Regions from separate parts of the Homo sapiens genome. Here region 1 is linked to region 2. The links come from fine-mapping of genetic effects on plasma protein levels. A gene starts in region 2. The other region holds a variant in brackets. All regions are shown on one strand. Distances are between the middles of the regions.

Region 1 (8,313 bases), 100 kb after region 2:
AGTTCAAGACCAGCCTGGGCAACACAGGGAGACCTTGTCTCTACAAAAAAATACAAAAATTAGCTGGTGTGGTGGTGTGCACCTGTAGTCCCAGCTGCTTGGGAGGTTGAGGTTGAGGTTACGTGAGCCTGGGGAGGCCTAGGCTGCTGTGAGCCATGATGGTGCCACTGCACTCCAGCCTGGGCAACAGAGTGAGACCCTGTCTCAAAATTTTTTTTTTTTTTAAATAAATACATAGAAAAAGATGTAGCAAACAAATATTAACAAAATGCTGGTTTAGCAATACCAATCAGATTCTATAGAATTCAGACAAGATCAGGCATGTTCAGAGTGCTATGGCTGGCTATAGACAGAATTCAAAAAGAAAAGGATTGAATGGGACAGAAAAAGATATTTCATTTTTATCAAAAAAAATAACTGAATAGAACATATAAGGCACGAATCCTTAGACACCTAACAACATAGCTTCAAAATATATAAGGCAAAAACTGAACTACAAGGAAAAATTGTCAACAATGGATATTTTAACCATTTTTCTCACTGATCAAATAGACCCCCAAAAATTTAAGATGTGGAAGATTTGTACAGCACAATTAGAAAGACCGATCAAATAAATGGTAAAATATTTTCATAACCAGTAAGTGGGGTCCAGAAATACAACCATATGATTTGCGGAGCTGCCTTATTTTGAGGTTAATGAGTGGCCTTGGAGAGCCTGCACAGCTGGGGTTCCCCATCAGCCCAGGCCAGCTAGGTTTAGTGCCACCTGGTGGCAGTTGTCTCCTCCAGAATAAAACACTTAACCTTTACAAGGTGGAATATGTTTTTATTTATATTTATATATTTTTTGAGACAAGGTCTTGCTCTGTTGCCCCCCTAGGCTGGAGTGCAGTGGTGGGATCACAGCTTACTACAGCCTCAACCTCCTGGGTTCAGGTGATCCTCCCACCTTAGCCTTCTGAGTAGCTGGGACTACAGGCAAGTGCCACTATGCCCAGCTAATTTATAAATTCTTTTTTAGAGATGGGGTCTCATTCTGTTGACCAGGCTGGTCTCAAACTTCTGGGCTCAAGCAATCTACCTGTGTCAGCCTCCCAAAGTGCTGGAATTACAGGCATGAACCATCGCACCTGACCAGAATATGGTGGTTGTTTTTTTTTTTAATCTTCTTTGTGCTTAGTTCAGATTGTCTTTCATGAATATGAATTACTTTAAGAATAAAAAACTACATTTTTCTAAGCCCCTACCCTTCTTGTCTATAACATGAAGAAGGCAGTTTGAATGAGCCCTAAGATTCCTCTAGCTACACAGGGCTACGAGTCGGCACCAAACAAGCCTCCCAGCTCTTGACATTGGCTGCACCGACTCTCCTGGTTTATAGCTGCATCTGCTCCAGGGCCCTCAAGCTTGTGGCCTGGGCTGAATCACCCTCTGCTCTGAGCCTGTCATTGTTTCCCAGGCCTTTCCCATCTCAGGAAAATTTTCCCCAGTGTTATCCTCTCCCTCTCTCAGCCCCAGGTCTAATTCATTCCTTACTTTTTTTTTTTTTTTTTTTTTGAGACAGAGTCTTGCTCTGTTGCCCAGGCTGGAGTGCAGTGGCGTGATCTCTGCTCACTGCAACCTCCACCTCCCAGGTTCAAGTGATTCCCCTGCCTCAGCCTCCCTAGAAGCTGGGATTACAGGTGTCCGCCACAACCCCCGGCTAATTTTTATATTTTTAGTAGAAACAGGGTTTCACCATGTTGGCCAGGCTGGTCTTGAACTCCTAACAGGTGATCTGCCCACCTCAGCCTCCCAAAGTGCTGAGATTACAGGCCTGAGCCACTGCACCTGACTGTCCTCTACTTTTGTAGAACACATTACTCATCTCTTTGCTCATCATTTTCCCCCCACAGATTTGGACTCACCAGTTGACACATTTAGGGCAATTTCCCAAAGTTTATATCTCCAAATATTAATTCCAAAGCTATTAAATTATTTAAAAGGCCTCAATCACCAAATCTGGGAAATGCCAGATTAAATAAAAGTTCCATATTTACAGCAAGACTTTTCAGAGGCTTTTAACATGACAACAAAATATTCTCCAAGAGGAGATATAACACATTTATCTCCAATTATTGCCTTTGATTTAAAAAAATCAACAAAGGAAGTATGTTTGTTATGGCAAAGACAATGCTATATTTTCACCAAATCTTTTTGCATTTTCCTCTTTCTGGGTACTCAGGAAGACAACACTCTCAGCCACCACTGCAGTTAGGTTGGGGCCATGTGACTAATTCTGGCCAATGGGAGTAGAAGAGACATGTGTTGCTTCTGAGCCACAGTCTTGAGGAGCAGAACACGCTCCTCCAGCACCTTCTCCCTTGGACACAGTGATCGGTGATTGTGGAGGCCTCCCAGCTACTCGGGAGGATGAGGCACTAGAATCGCTTGAACCCAGGCGGCAGAGGTTACAGTGAGCCAAGATCGCGCCACTTCATCCAGTCTGGGCGACAGAGCGAGACTCCATCTCAAAAAAAAAAAAAAAAAAAAAGTGTGTGGCACCTCCTGCTCCTGTTGCTCCTGCTTTCGCCGTGTGATGCATCTGCTCCCTCTTTGCCTTCTGCCATGATCGGGAGCTTCCTGAGGCCTTCCAAGAAGCAGATGCTGCTACGCTTCCTGTACAGCCTGCAGAACTGTGAGCCAATGAATCCTCTTCCTTTATAAATTACCCAGTCTGAGGTATTCCTTTACAGCAATGCGAGAACGGCCCACCTCCTTCTTCCGGGGCTGCAGAGGGAAGAAACTGAGGGATAAAGAAGGATGATGGTGAAAAGAAAAACATTTTAAAACCACAGCTACTGCTTAGCACACCTGCTCCTCCCCTCCCACGGGTGAACCATGCCGGCCTCTCGATGTGGCAGAGTGGGGAAATATTTGTTTTTTATTTATTTTTTTAGACGGAGTCCCGTTCTGTGGCTCAGGCTGCAGTGCAGCGGGGCGATCTCGGCTCACTGCATCCTCCGCCTCCTGGGTTCAAGTGATTCTTCTGCCTCAGCCTCCCGAGTAGCTGGGACTACAGGTGCGTGCCACCACGCCTGGCTAATATATATATATATATGTGTGTGTGTGTATATATATGTGTATATATATATGTGTATATATATGTGTGTATATATATGTATATATATGTGTGTGTATATGTATATATATATGTGTGTGTATATATATGTGTATATATATGTATATATATGTGTGTGTATATGTATATATATGTGTGTGTATATATATGTATGTACATATAGATATGTATATATATTTGTAGTTTTAGTAGAGACGGGGTTTCACCATATTGGCCAAGCTGATCTCAGACTCCTGACCTTGTGATCTGCCCGCCTCGGCCTCCCAAAGTGCTGGGATTACAGGCGTGAGCCACCGCGCCCGGCCCAAATTGATTTAAAACGAACAAAAACAAAAACAAAAAACAACCTCATCTCTCTCTTGGATTTTGCCTCTGCTCCCTGCCTCTGGCATCTTTCCTAAGGAAACTGTTTATTTTCCCACCTGAGTTCCTAGTAAAGCATCTCAGTTTTATTCCCTCCTTTGCAGAAAAGCTTAGAGCAAGAAAAATGGCAGCTGGCAGGTGCCTTCACGTCCAGGGTTTCCAGAGAGAAAGCATCTCTCCTCCGCAGAGACCCTCCCACGCTCTCCCTCCCTCAAATTAGTGCATCTACATAGACCGCCCTCCTTATAAACAGTCTCTCAGGGGATCCTAGCCCATTCCAAATCTACCTGTGATTGCAGAATCGCAAGGAATGTGATTTACCGCAGATCGCGGGGCGTCGTGTCTTTTAGGGGACCTGCTCACTTTGGCCACTAGGTGGCGGGCAGTGCAGCCCCTGCTCCTGTCGACCCTGAGCGTTCAGCGTTTCCGCCGCCTCCGCCCCACTCCGTAGGGGGAGCTGATGAGATGAGGTTGAGGTCCAGGAAGACGTCAAGGGCTTGGTTTTGTAAACAACTCCATTCCTCGCTCGCTGATAAGTTTTCTAAGTGATGCATATTCACAACCTTGTCCCATCCAAGGACCCAAGAATTAACACATTACATAATATGGACAGCCCCCTCCTGTCCAACGGGCATGATTTTGGGGTCTGATATTCTGTGGATCTGTGCAATAGTCAACACACGTGCTGGGATGTCCTTGGGCACAGCCTACAAGGACACAGATAGGTGCACGTCCGGGCACCAACTCACAATAACCACAAACTTTGTTGAGTGCTTCCGTGTACCAGGCTATCAGCCAGCGTTTTACAAATCATCACACTTTCCTCTCAGAAGCCCTTGAGGGGGGGTCTGAAGGGGGTGAGAGGGGCTCCCTAGTATGAAAGCTCAGACGTTGGGTCCCAACTGCCTGGATTGGAATCTTGGTTCAGCCTCTTGCTGGCTGTGTGCCAGCTACTGCCCGCCATCTACTGTACCATGTCTCACGTTCTTCATCTGTAAGAGGCATAACAACAGTATCGAGTCATAGGCTTGTTATGAGGATGAAATGTGATGATACTTACTGTGGAGTGCTTAGAACAGTGTGTGGCATATGTAGTAAGCATGTCACAAACGTTGGCTATTATTATTATCCCATTTTGCAGATAAGCAAACTGAAGGTCAGAGAGGTTACACAACTTGCTCAAGGTCACACAGCCTTATAATTCCACTCTGCCAGACTGAGCTCACAGTCTCTGTTAGTCAGTCTATAGGCTGGTGACACCTCTAGTTTCTACTTGTGGTTTTGATTAGCTGGACGCTATGTGAATTGAGAACACTTTCGTATTCCGCTGAAACAGTGTGGTCCTCATTTCTAAGAAGTTCCCGGGTGATACTGATGCCAGCAGCAGCGTCATTACCTGGGAACCTGTTAGAAATGCAAAAAATTCTCAGGCCTCCCTCCAGACCTACTACTCAGGAACTCTAGGGATGGGGCCCGGTGGGCTGTTGCGGCAAGCCCCCC[A/CA]GTGATCCTGACACACGTTCAAGTTTGAAACCCCTTGCTATAAAATATGTGTCTCCTAAAACCAAGCTGCTAGCTTACATTCAATAAACATTTACCTAGCATGATCTTGGCAGTTCAAAGAGGAATGTGCCAGAAACCAAGCAAAGAAGAAAAAGAAATAAATGGAAATGGAAAGTGATCTGCTCAGAGGCCACAAAGTTGAGGGAGGAGGTTTCCAGAGTGGGATTTGGCCCAAATGTTGCCTGAGGAAGTACGTAAAGGGGTCTCAACTCTGGCTACACAACAGAACAGCAGGACTGTGTGTGCAGCTCACGAAGTGGGTACACAGGGTAATCTGCAAGTTCTGGGTGGATCTAGCACCTGGATTGTTAAAACTTGCATAGATGGCCAGCGTTCATACTTTCTGCTTGTTTGTACAAAGTCATTCTTCTAGAGTAATTGTTGTAAAATTGCTAGGCAAGGTGGCAGGTCTGATAAGATTTGATGACGTAATGGCTCTTAGTCGCTAATAAGAGGCTTTTGTGGAGTGGCGTGTCACAGCCAGCGAAGGCTCAGCTCTGTGATCTTCGCCTGCCTCACTTGGGGGACCAGAAGGCAGCTTGTCTTGGAACTGCCTCATTCACAGAAGACCCCATTGAGTACAGAAACTGCACATCAAAGGGAGGAGTAAGGAAAACAAGATGGTGAATCCTCAAAAATTAAACAAAATTACCTTTTTAATTTTTTTTTTTTGTAGAAACGGGGTCTCACTTTGTCACCCAGACTGGTCTTGAAGTCCTAGGCTCAAGCAATTCTCCCATCTCAGCCTCCCAAAGTGCTGGATTTACAGGTGTGAGCCACTCACCTCAGCCAGAATTACCACTGAAAAAAAGAAAAAAGGTTAAGATGGTAAATTTTGTTGTGTATATTTTACCAGTATGATCCAGCATTTCCACTTCTGGGTACATGCCCCAGAGAATTGAAAGCAGAGTCTCGATCAGGTATTTGTACAACCCTGTTGATAGCAGCACTATTCACAATAGCCAAAGGTGGAAGCAACACAGGTGTCCCTCAATATATGAATGGATGAACAGAATGCAGCACACACGCACAATAAAATATTACTCAGCCTTCAAAAGGAAGGCAGTTCTGGCCAGGCACAGTGGCTCACTCCTGTAATCCCAGCACTTTGGAAGGCCGAGGCAGGCAGATCACTTGAGGTCAAGAGTTCAAGACCAGCCTGGCCAATATGGTGAAACCCCGTCTCTACTAAAAATACAAAAATTAGGTGGACATGGTGGCAGATGCCTGTAATCCCATCTACTCAGGAGGTTGAGGCAGGAGAATCCCTTGAACCTGGGAGGCAGAGGTTGCAGTGAGCTGAGATCACACCATCACTGTCCTCCAGCCTGGGCGATAGAGCAAGACTCTGTCTCAAAAAGAAAGGAAAAAAAAAGGATAAAAAAAAGAAAGAGCCAGAAGGTGAGGTACCATGATGCCAACCTTGGACCAATCATTTGACCAGGAAGGTGGAGCTGAGTAGGAAGATGGAAGCTTCCCAAAAAACTTGTCTAAAGTAGAAAAAGAAGGGGTTATCTTTAAAAAAGGGTGAGTCCAAACATGGCTCCTGGAGAAATTGTCCCAAATGGGACATCCACCCCCATTTGTGTCTATGACAGATGCCACCAAAACATTAAAGTCACGTGGGCCCTTCAAAGCTCTGGGCCCTGCTGCCTCCTTCCCACCATAGTCATTTTATATTGGCTCTGTTTTGCCAGCAGTATGACAAGGAGATTCCAAAAAGAACTGAGCTGAAGAAATTGATGCACACAAGCACCAAGAGAAATTGCGCCAGAGCAATGTGTGGCCTTGACTGTCCTCCTGGCCTCTGAATGGTCTAATTTGTGACTTTGCTAAGCCAGAAGTTTCAATGTGCTGTGAGGCTGGCCCGTGGGAGCAAGATCCTCTGCTCGTGGGTGAGCCTAGCTGGCTGCCCGCCACCCACCTCTGCACCCAGTGTTCATACTTTCTGCTTGTTTGTACAAAGTCACTCTTCTAGAGTAATTGTTGTAAAATTGCTAGGCAAGGTGGCAGGTCTGATAAGATTTGATGAAGTGATAGGTCTTAGTCACTAATAAGAGGCTTTTTTGGAATGGTGTGTCACAGCCAAGGAAGCCTCAGCTCTGTGATCTTCGCCTGCCTCACTTGGGGGACCAGAAGGTAGCTTGTCCTGGAACTGCCTCATTCACAGAAGGCCCCAGTGAGTACAGAAACTGCACATCAAAGGGAGGAGTAAGGAAAACAGGATGGCAAATCTTCAAAAATTAAACAAAATTACTTTTTTTTTTTTTTGTAGCGATGGGGTCTCACTTTGTCACCCAGGCTGGTCTTGAAGTCCTAGACTCAAGCAATCCTCCCACCTCAGCCTCCCAAAGTGCCGGATTTACAAGTGTGAGCCACCAAGCCCAGTCAGAATTACCACTAAAAAAAAAAAAGAAAAAAGGTTAAGATGGTAGATTTTGTTGTGTATATTTTACCATTATGATCCAGCATTTCCACTTCTGGGTACATACCCCAGAGAACTGAAAGCAGAGTCTTGAGCAGGTATTTGTACAACCCTGTTTGTAGCAGCACTATTCACAATAGCCAAAGGTGGAAGCAACACAGGTGTCCATCAGTATATGAATGCATGAACAGAATGCGGCACACACGCACAATAGGATATTGCTCAGCCTTCAAAAGGAAGGCAGTTCTGGCCAAGCGTGGTGGTTCATGCCTGTAATACCAGCACTTTGGGAGGCTGAGGTGGGCGGATCATTTGAGGTCAGGAGTTCGAGACCAGCCTGGCCGACATGATGAAACCCCATCTCTACTAAAAATACAAAAATTAGCCAGTCGGCACGTGCCTGTAATCCCAGCTACTCAAGAGGCTGAGGCAAGGCCAGGCACGGTGGCTCATGCCTGTAATCCCAACACTTTGGGAGGCCAAGGCGGGCGGATTGCCTGAGCTCAAGAGTTTGAGACCAGCCTAGGCAACATGGTGAAACCCCATCTCTGCTAAAATACAAAAGAAATTAACCAGGCGTGGTGGCGTGCACCTGTAGTCCCAGCTACTCAGGAGGCTGAGGCAGGAGAATTGCTTGAACTCGGGAGGCGGAGGTTGCAGTGAGCCGAGATCACACCACTGCACTCCAGCACTCCAGCCTGGGCGACAGAGTGAGGCTCCATCTCTACAAAACAAACAAACAAACAAACAACAACAACAACAACAAAAACACTGAGGCAAGAGAATCGTTTGAACCTGGGAGGCAGAGGTTACAGTGAGCCAAGATCACACCACTGCACTCCAG
Region 2 (8,305 bases):
TACCTAAAAACCAAAGTGTTCACAGTGAGAACAACTTTTAAAATGTCCCTTAAACGTGACGGGAGGACGGAGATGAGAATTTAGCTTGCTATCAGAGACTCTTGCTTCATTGTTTTTTGTGTTTGTTTGTTTGTTTGTTTTGAGACAGGGTCTCGCTCTGCTGCCCAGGCTGGAGTGCAGTGGTGCTATGACAGCTCACTGCAGCCTCCACCTCTCAGGCTCAAGCAATCCTCTCACCTCAGCTTCCAGAGTAGCTGGGACTACAGGTGTGCACCATGGCACCTGGCTAATTATTTTATTTTTTTGTAGGGACAAAGTGTCACTATGTTGCCCAGACTGGTTTCAAACTCTTAGGCTGAAGATACCCGCCACCTCAGCCTCCCAAAGTGCGGGATTACAGGTGTAAGTCACAGCGCCTTGCCCCTTTATGGTTGTATTAATATTTATCCCATAACTACTTCCACACACTCTGTAGGTTCAGTTCAAGAAGCAGCAGCAGCGATATCACTAAAAACAACAACAACAAAAAAACTGACTTGATTTATTCTGATAAAGATACTATTCCTTTGAAATGTTACTGGAGTTTTCAACCATGACCTTTCTTTCTGGTTTTACTAGATTTTTCTTTCAAGTCTCCGCCTTCAAAGGTATCTATCCTGTCACTAGCTATCTGCAAATCAACCTCACAAGCATTTTTAAATGAGATTTTGAAGGGTTTTAAACACAAATGAGACAGGCACAAGCTCCTTTTTTGGGTCATAATTTATTACACTAGAGGGCGATATTTGCTAAACTAAAAGGGATTCATGGTTGCAGGGATGAAGGCTGGACATCATGATTGAGCTGGAGCCCTGGATCTTGACTGCCTTCAGTGTACGGTGGAAACTGCAAAACGCACAGGTCTCTGGGCTCTGCCCCTGGACATTGTGAATCAGTCAGGGAAAGGGGTACAAGAAGTTATTGGAAATATGTTTTTAATTTCTTTTTTTTTGTTTGTTTTTTGAGATGGAGTCTCACTCTGTCGCCCAGACTGGAGTGCAGTGGCGCAGTCTTGGCTCACTGCAACCTCTGCCTCCCGGGTTCAAGAGATTTTTCTCCCTCAGCCTCCCAAGTAGCTGGGACTACAGGCGCACACCACCACGCCCGGCTAATTTTTGTTTTTTTAGTAGAGACAGGGTTTCACCATGTTGCTCAGGCTGGTTGGTCTTGAACTCCTGACCTCGTGATCCACCTGCCTCGTCCTCCCAAAGTGCTGGGATTACAGGTGTGAGCCACCATGCCCAGCTTTTTATTTCTATTTTTTTGAGACAGGGTCTTGCTCTGTCGTCCAGGCTGGAGTGCCATGGCACGATCAAAGCTCACTGCAGCCTTGACCTCCTGGGCTCAAGCCATCCTCCCACCTCAGCTTCCCAAGTCACTGGAACTACAGGTGTGAACCACTATGCCTGACTAATTTTTTGGTTTTTTGTTTTTTTTTTTTTACAGAAACAGGGTCTCACCATGTTCCCTAGGCTGGTCTTGATCTCAAGCAATCCTCCTGCTTCGGCCTCCCAAAGTGCTGGGATTACAGGCGTGAGCCACCATGCCTGGCCTGGAAATCTGTTTTTTGTTGTTGTTGTTTTGTTTTGTTTTTTTAGCTCTCCAAGTTTGGGAACCAGTGGTTTAAAGGGAAGTGAAAATAAGATTTTCTCCCACCTCCCCATAGTCAGATCCTGCTGTACTTCTTTGTTGAATCTGATGTATATATGTTTCTTACACTGGTGGAAAAGAGGCCTTATCTTTACACTAAGACCATGACCTTTGCTTTATTCAGTGGATGTTATTTAATGTGACTTGCAGAAAGGTCATTTACTGCCCATTTGCAGGTCTTTTATATGGTCAGGTCCACTTCAAAGGCACCCTACAAAATATTCCATTTCTGTTTGTGTTTATCAGTGCTATCAGCTTTTACTTTATCATAAGCAAAAAGCTGCCTAAAGAAGTACTTGACTGTAGAGCAAGATTATGGGCAATGCCACCATAAATAAAACCAGTGCTTATCTGTCTGGATTGCCAATCAAGTGAAGAAGTGCATGAAGCATGTGGACGATGCATAAGAAATTCAGAGAATGGGGCCGGGCACAGTGGCTCACGCCTGTAATCCCAGCACTTTAGGAGGCGGAGGTGGGCAGATCACGAGGTCAGGAGTTCGAGACCAGCCTGGCCAACATGGTGAAACCCCGTCTCTATAAAAATACAAAAATTAGCCAGGCGTGGTGGCAGGCACCTGTAATCCCAGCTACTCGGGAGTCTCAGGCAGGAGAATCGCTTGAAACCGAAAAGGCAGAGGTTGCAGTGAGCCACGATCGTGCCACTGCACTCTAGCCTGGGCAAAAGAGTGAAACTCTGTCTCAAAAAAAAAAAAAAAAGAAAGAAATTCAGAGAACATGTAACAGTGCAATTAAGCCCTGGGGATTTGGTCCAACTGAGTGTAAGATAAATAATACCTAACTGTCCAGGCTTCTTGGAACAGATTTTTTTTCTTTCTACGATCTTTAAAACTGATTTATGAGTGAAATTGAGGTCAGCATTCCCCTTTGTGTTTCATCTGCTGATGTTACAGGGTCACAGTGACATTTTGAATTGTAAAAGGGCTGCCAGAGTTCCAGTACAGCAAATTTTCCCCTCCTAGACTTACTCTGTTTGAGAAAAAGCACCAGAGGGGGGGATGTGAAAGTGACATTTTTCAGTCAAGCTTCTCTTTTAAGTCAAGTATACAGGGTCTAACAGATGCTGTTGTCAGCTGGCAAACTGGACAGGTAATCACTAAAGAGGTCCTCCCAAGCCAGGTGTCGTGGGGCACACCTGAAGTCCCAGCTACTGGGGAGGATCTCTTGAGCCCAGGAGTTTGAGAGCAGCCTGGGCAACACCGTGAGACCTCATCTCTAAAAAGAAAAGATAAAAGGTCAAGAAATAAAGAGCTCCTCCCAGTTTCAGGGCTGTAGGCCTCCCTGGAAGCCCGGCTATACTGCTCAGGAGTGCTGGGCCTCTCAGTACATCTCTCTGCCAATCCCAAACCTCTGTTTGCATTTAGACATTCAGGTAACACTTTTCAAAATGTCTCTACTGTTTTCACAGTTGCCAAGATTCTTCCCACTCTTACAGAGATGTGTTGGAGTCTCCAGCATGCGGTAGGACTTAGTCCCTTCACTGTAATCCAGGCCTAGGGGGTTAGGAATGGGGAGCTCTATTTGCAGGATTTGGGCTTACTGTCATTTTGGTCTGTTTTAGTTGGATAAGATTGACCACAATGCACACAGACTGGACATTTGGCCAGTCCCCCACTACTACTTTGTTGTTTTGTCTAGGAGTGCTTATTCTTTTCCTTCAAACCTGAAAAATCTTAGGCTCTCATATAAGCAAGTCAGGAAAAATTAGAGAATTTCATAGCCGTTTTCTTTTTCTCCTAGGATAAGTTAGATACCTTTCCCTGGGCTCCAAATCTCAGTTTACTGTCTTTCCTTGCAAAAGACGTGTCCTCCCTACCCATGTCCCTCTCAGTGGAGGCCAGTGCCAGTGACCAAACAGCTGCCGAGCTCTTTAACTCTAATTAGTACTCCACACCCTCACATAGACCTTGCAGGAGGCCTCAACCCACCCACTCCCTCCAACGAGTTGTGACGCAGACCATCTCAAACTTCACATCCACACGTGTCACATCAACGCACGTGACACAAGTGGCCGAAATGGTTTCCTCCTTATAATTTTTGGTGAGTGACTTGGCCGTGGTTCATTCCAAGCGGAAGTGATGGCTGGTGGATATGACTTGAGGGGAATTCCTGAGGGCAAGGAAAAGGAAGAAAGGGGCCCCAGAGAAGACGAGGCACAGCTGGAGAACCCTAGGGCTGTGAACACTGCGACTGCCGCGCGGGGCAGCTGCGCCGTGTTTGCTGGAAGCCTCCGGTAGCTGCTGAAACCTTCGCTCCGGAGGTCGCCTCGGTAAACCTTGCGGATGATTCCACCACGGCGGAAAGACGAAAAGGAGGCTTCTAGGCACCCGGGACCGCCCGTGTCCCGCCCTTTTCCCCGATGAAGTCTGACGCGGCAGGTCCCTCGGCAGGGTTAATGGGACGGCCTGGTGGGGCATTGCCGGTCTTTCCCAGCCACAGACAAGCTTCGCGCCTCGATCCCCCAGCGCCCCCAGACGCTGGATGCCGAGGCCTGGTCCTTTACAGCCGCCGACGCCTCATGAGCGAAGCCAGCCAGATGCCAGCACCGCCTTCGGCCCCGCCCCGAGCCAGCCCCTCCCACATCCCCGCCCGGGGCACGCCCTCGGCCCGCCCCCATCTCCGCCCCGAACACGCCCCTAGATTGGCCCCGCCCCGTCCCCGCCCGCAACTCCGCCCCGACCGGAAGAAGCCGCGGCACCCAGCGCTTATAGGGCCGGGAATGGGGGTGCCGCCGCTGCCTAGTCAGTTCTGCGTCCGCTGAGGCTCGGTCACCGCCTCGCTGTCGTCGCGGCGCCCCCGCCCCGTCCTCTGTCCGTACCGCCCCCGGAGCCAGGGCCGAGTCCTCGCCATGCCGGCCCGGCGGCTGCTGCTGCTGCTGACGCTGCTGCTGCCCGGCCTCGGGGTGAGTGACCGGGGAGCGTGGGGTGGAGGACAGCTCGCGACGGCCGGGTCGGGGCCGGGGCAGCGTCGCGGCGCCGGGGCTGGAGTCCGAGCTGGGAGCGCGACGGCGGCGGCCAGATGCCCCGTGAGCCCAGCCGTGGGAGGCTCGGGCCGGGCGTAGGAGGCGGCACCGGGCCGGGAGAGCTTCCCTGACGGGAGTCGCGGCCCCACCGAGGCGTCGGCCGCCCGAAGAGCCTCCCAAGCCAGCGCGGCTGTCACGGGCAGCGGCTCCCCGGACCCCGCGGGCTCGGGCGCAACTTCGTGGCGTCCTGCACGGCACTTGGGGGTCCCAGAAGGCCCCGGCCTGAGGAGGCCGCCCACCTGCGGGACCCTCCTCCTCGCGGGCGGGCGCCGGCGCTGCCTGGCGGGGGCCGCGGAGGAGCCGAAAGGGCGTTGGGATCCAGGGGAAGGGTCTGTCCTGCGCTTCGAATCCTTGTTTGAACTTTTTAAAAATTCGAAAACTTTGGGGAACGAATGCAACAGGGAGTAAGGACTCTCACCCGAGAGCTGGCTTCTGCCACTTGCCCTGCCGGTTTCTTGGTACTGGGAGGCTGCAGGCTTCCTTCTGTGCACCGAGACTTCCTTGAGCAAGTGGAGCTGTGGGAATTGCACTCTTGGAAGATCCCGCATGGGTTCGAGGTGAGGCCGCTTCAGAACCTCAAATGAAAGACTGTCTCCTCGTGGGAGAGCACCTGGGGCCATCAGAAATGTCTTTTCATCTTTTTCTGGAGGAGACGAATGATAGGGCCTGGTTTACATTCATTTAACTCTTTATGACCTTCACTCAGCTGTGGATTTGGGGGCACTTTGTGGGAGACTTGGCTTTTTTTTTTCTTCTGGTTGGAAGAACCTAAATTAGCGAATGTTTTTCACAAAATGTATTGTTCAGGATGTGAGCGTGGCAAATTTGTCCGTGTTCTGTTTAATGACCTCTTTAAAGGTACTGTGTACTCTTTAATAGGGATATCATGTACCAGGTGTCCCAGTAGAGCACTGACATGTGTGTGCCTGAGTGCCAGCCACCGTGTGAACTCTTTGGAGGTTTTGCATTTTAGGTAAATAACTGTCTGTACTCTTGGAGTAACAAGAATTTGGAAACAGGAGAAGTAAATAAATAAGGTTGCCTTTTTCAAATTCAGGGTTTTTTTTTTTAAATAAAGGAAAATTTGTAGACTCTTTATAATAGAACTTGTGGAAGTTAAGTTTTTCTTTCAAATAAAAACCCCACTTTTACAACTAAGGTCAGGTTTTGAACTTGAGCACCTCACCTTGGATTGGTAACTACTGCCTGGCATCTGTTCACAAACGAAGGTATAAGCAGAATGACCAAATGTTTGACATGAATTCGATCATTTCATAACGTCAAGGGATAGGTGTATAATGGTTTCCTTTGCCACATCTTTCCTTTTGCTACTTTGTCACTGGATTCTAGTGTTTGGTTATTGAATAACTTAGGCTAAAGAGCCAAAAATAACGATTTAGCTGTAGTTGGAACTATAGTTTCAGTTCGTGTAAATATTTCCAATTTGTATTTAGAAATCCAAACTTCTCAGAGTTCATGATAAAATATTCCAGACCCTTATCAAAAGGTTATAGTTTAGCGTAACTATATTTAGGTGAAAGGTCAGGCCGGGCCCGGTGGCTCATGCCTGTAATCCCAGCACTTTGGGAGGCTGAGGTGGGTGGATCACTTGAGGTCAGGAGTTTGAGACCAGCCTGGCCAACATGGTGAAACCTTGTCTCTACTAAACATACAAAAAAAAAAAAAAAAAAAAATTAGCCGGGCGTGGTAGCGCAGGCCTGTAATCCCAGCTACTGGGGAGGCTGAGGCAGGAGAATCACCCGAACCTGGGAGGCAGAGGTTGCAGAGATGGAGTCACTGTGCTCCAGCCTGGGTGACAGAGCAAGACTCTGTCTCAAAAAAAAAAAAGAAAGGTCAGAATTTCACTCCTAGAATTTTCTCCCAAGGGTTTTTACCCCCAAACATAGTAAGAATTATTATTTTAAAATTGTAAATGAAACTCATAGCAAAGTTTGCAGTTAAACCAGGCAACAGTGATGTGCAGAACGCAGTGGGTATAAAATCAGACAAACCTGAGTTCTAACTGGTCACTTGCTAGCTGTGCCCTAGGCATATTCTTTTACTACTACTACTACTACTTCTTTTTTTTTTTTTTTTTGATATGGAGTTTCTTCGCTCTTGTTGCCCAGGCTGGAGTGCAATGGTGTGGTCTCAGCTCACTGCAACCTCCGCCTCCCGGGTTCAAGCGATTCTCCTGCCTCAGCCTCCCGAGTAGCTGGGATTACAGGAGCCCACCACTACACCCGGCTAATTTTTGTATTTTTAGTAGAGACGTGGTTTCACCATGTTGGCCAGGTTGGTCTCGAACTCCTGACCTCAAGTGATCCACCCACCTTGGCCTTCCAAAATGCTGGGATTACAGGCATGAGCCACCGCACCCGGCCATGATTTTACTTCTTAGAGACTCCTTCCTGATAGGTGAAATGGGGACAGCTAACATGTGAAAGAAGGCACCACCTTCACACGTGCTTAATAGATAATAAATGTAAATTCTCTTTATGCTCCAAAGATGCTTTTTACTCTAAGCCATCATTTTTTGAATGTTATACTATGCCTCTGCAAGAAATAGTTTTTGATATTTCTTTTTGATTGATGTAGTAACTATTGCATTGGAGGCAATACTGTGATTTTCTTTCAGTGTGTGTCTTATTGAGCCAGACATTGACTCATTATGAGTTGAGACTTTAGGCTACCAGATCCAAAACGCAATAACATTGGTATTATTAAGCACTTGAGGCTGTCTTTTGTTAATCCAGAATGTGCTTATTTAGTCAGTGAGTTTTTCCTTTCTTCCTAGACCTATATCTTGCTCCTAGAGTTGGTTAGGGTTACATCATCACTGTCAGCAGTCCTCATTTTATGGTTATTTAGGTGCCACATCTCTCAATTACCAAAGAGATCAGTACAATGTGAGGCAAAGTACCTTTTTTTTTAAAAGCTATAAGATATCAGATTTCTTTCATTTAGCCAATATTTTGGTTTTAGAGGGAGGTTTTTAAAAAGTCACCGAGAACTGAGGATCATGTGTGTATAGAAACACTGTAATCTGATAGATGAGTCTTAACTAGCAATGTCTTTGCTTATCATTTATTCTGACAGTGATCACCTGCATTAATTATCCTAATAGGCGATATCAAGTGTTTATACTGAGGCCATAAGTAGAATGTTCATTGAGTTTGTTATCAGGGCTGCTGATCATGAAATTAAACTGTAGTTGTGCACATGTGTATTGTTTCATTAACTTGCCTGCCTATTCAGCCTTCTGCAGTAATGTAGCTTCTCAGAGCACAGGAGAAAAATGTATCTGAGAGTTATTCGAGAGAGAGTTCAACAATAGCCCATATTTCCGAACATAAATCTAGTGAGCCGCATTAAAGTTTCTTCATGTCTGGATGGAATAGTGTCACTTGCATAGGTCTGAGGGTTTCATTATTTGCCTGCCCCAGATTTGGACTCCGTTTTTCAGGTGAAAGAATCCTTGGATAACTGTTTCATTTTCATAGGAAACCTCTTTGGTTTCGGGATCCAAAGTAATATGTAGGTTCAATATTTTGTAGGTTTTATAATCAAATGT

Which allele goes with the higher level. Positions count from the first base shown, and alleles are read on the strand shown. Strength reflects both the effect of a copy and how common the allele is.
For the plasma level of the protein whose gene starts at base 4,443 in region 2, CA is the high allele of the variant in region 1 and A is the other (weak association).

Evidence for each region. PIP is the chance, under the fine-mapping model, that this variant and not a neighbour inherited with it causes the effect. The UK Biobank Pharma Proteomics Project read protein levels with antibody pairs (Olink). The fine-mapping took linkage between variants from a reference panel, not from the people measured, so its PIPs are less certain.
Region 1: its variant is fine-mapped to the plasma level of the ERN1 protein (UK Biobank, PIP above 0.99).

What each region holds. Positions count from the first base shown.
Region 1 is chr17:64,021,517-64,029,829 of GRCh38, reverse strand. No RefSeq gene overlaps it. Among named protein-coding and RNA genes, the nearest start is that of ICAM2, 5.0 kb to the right of the region's middle. RefSeq lists an enhancer at 4,033-4,082 and cis regulatory regions at 3,680-4,125, 5,227-5,664. The variant A/CA (reference allele first, on the strand shown) is at 4,985.
Region 2 is chr17:64,126,282-64,134,586 of GRCh38, reverse strand. ERN1 (endoplasmic reticulum to nucleus signaling 1) reads left to right here and starts at 4,443. Exons shown (of 22, transcript NM_001433.5): 1 at 4,443-4,611. The coding sequence starts at 4,558. RefSeq lists enhancers at 934-983, 2,579-2,638, 3,543-3,592, 3,643-3,842 and silencers at 4,263-4,392, 4,483-4,932.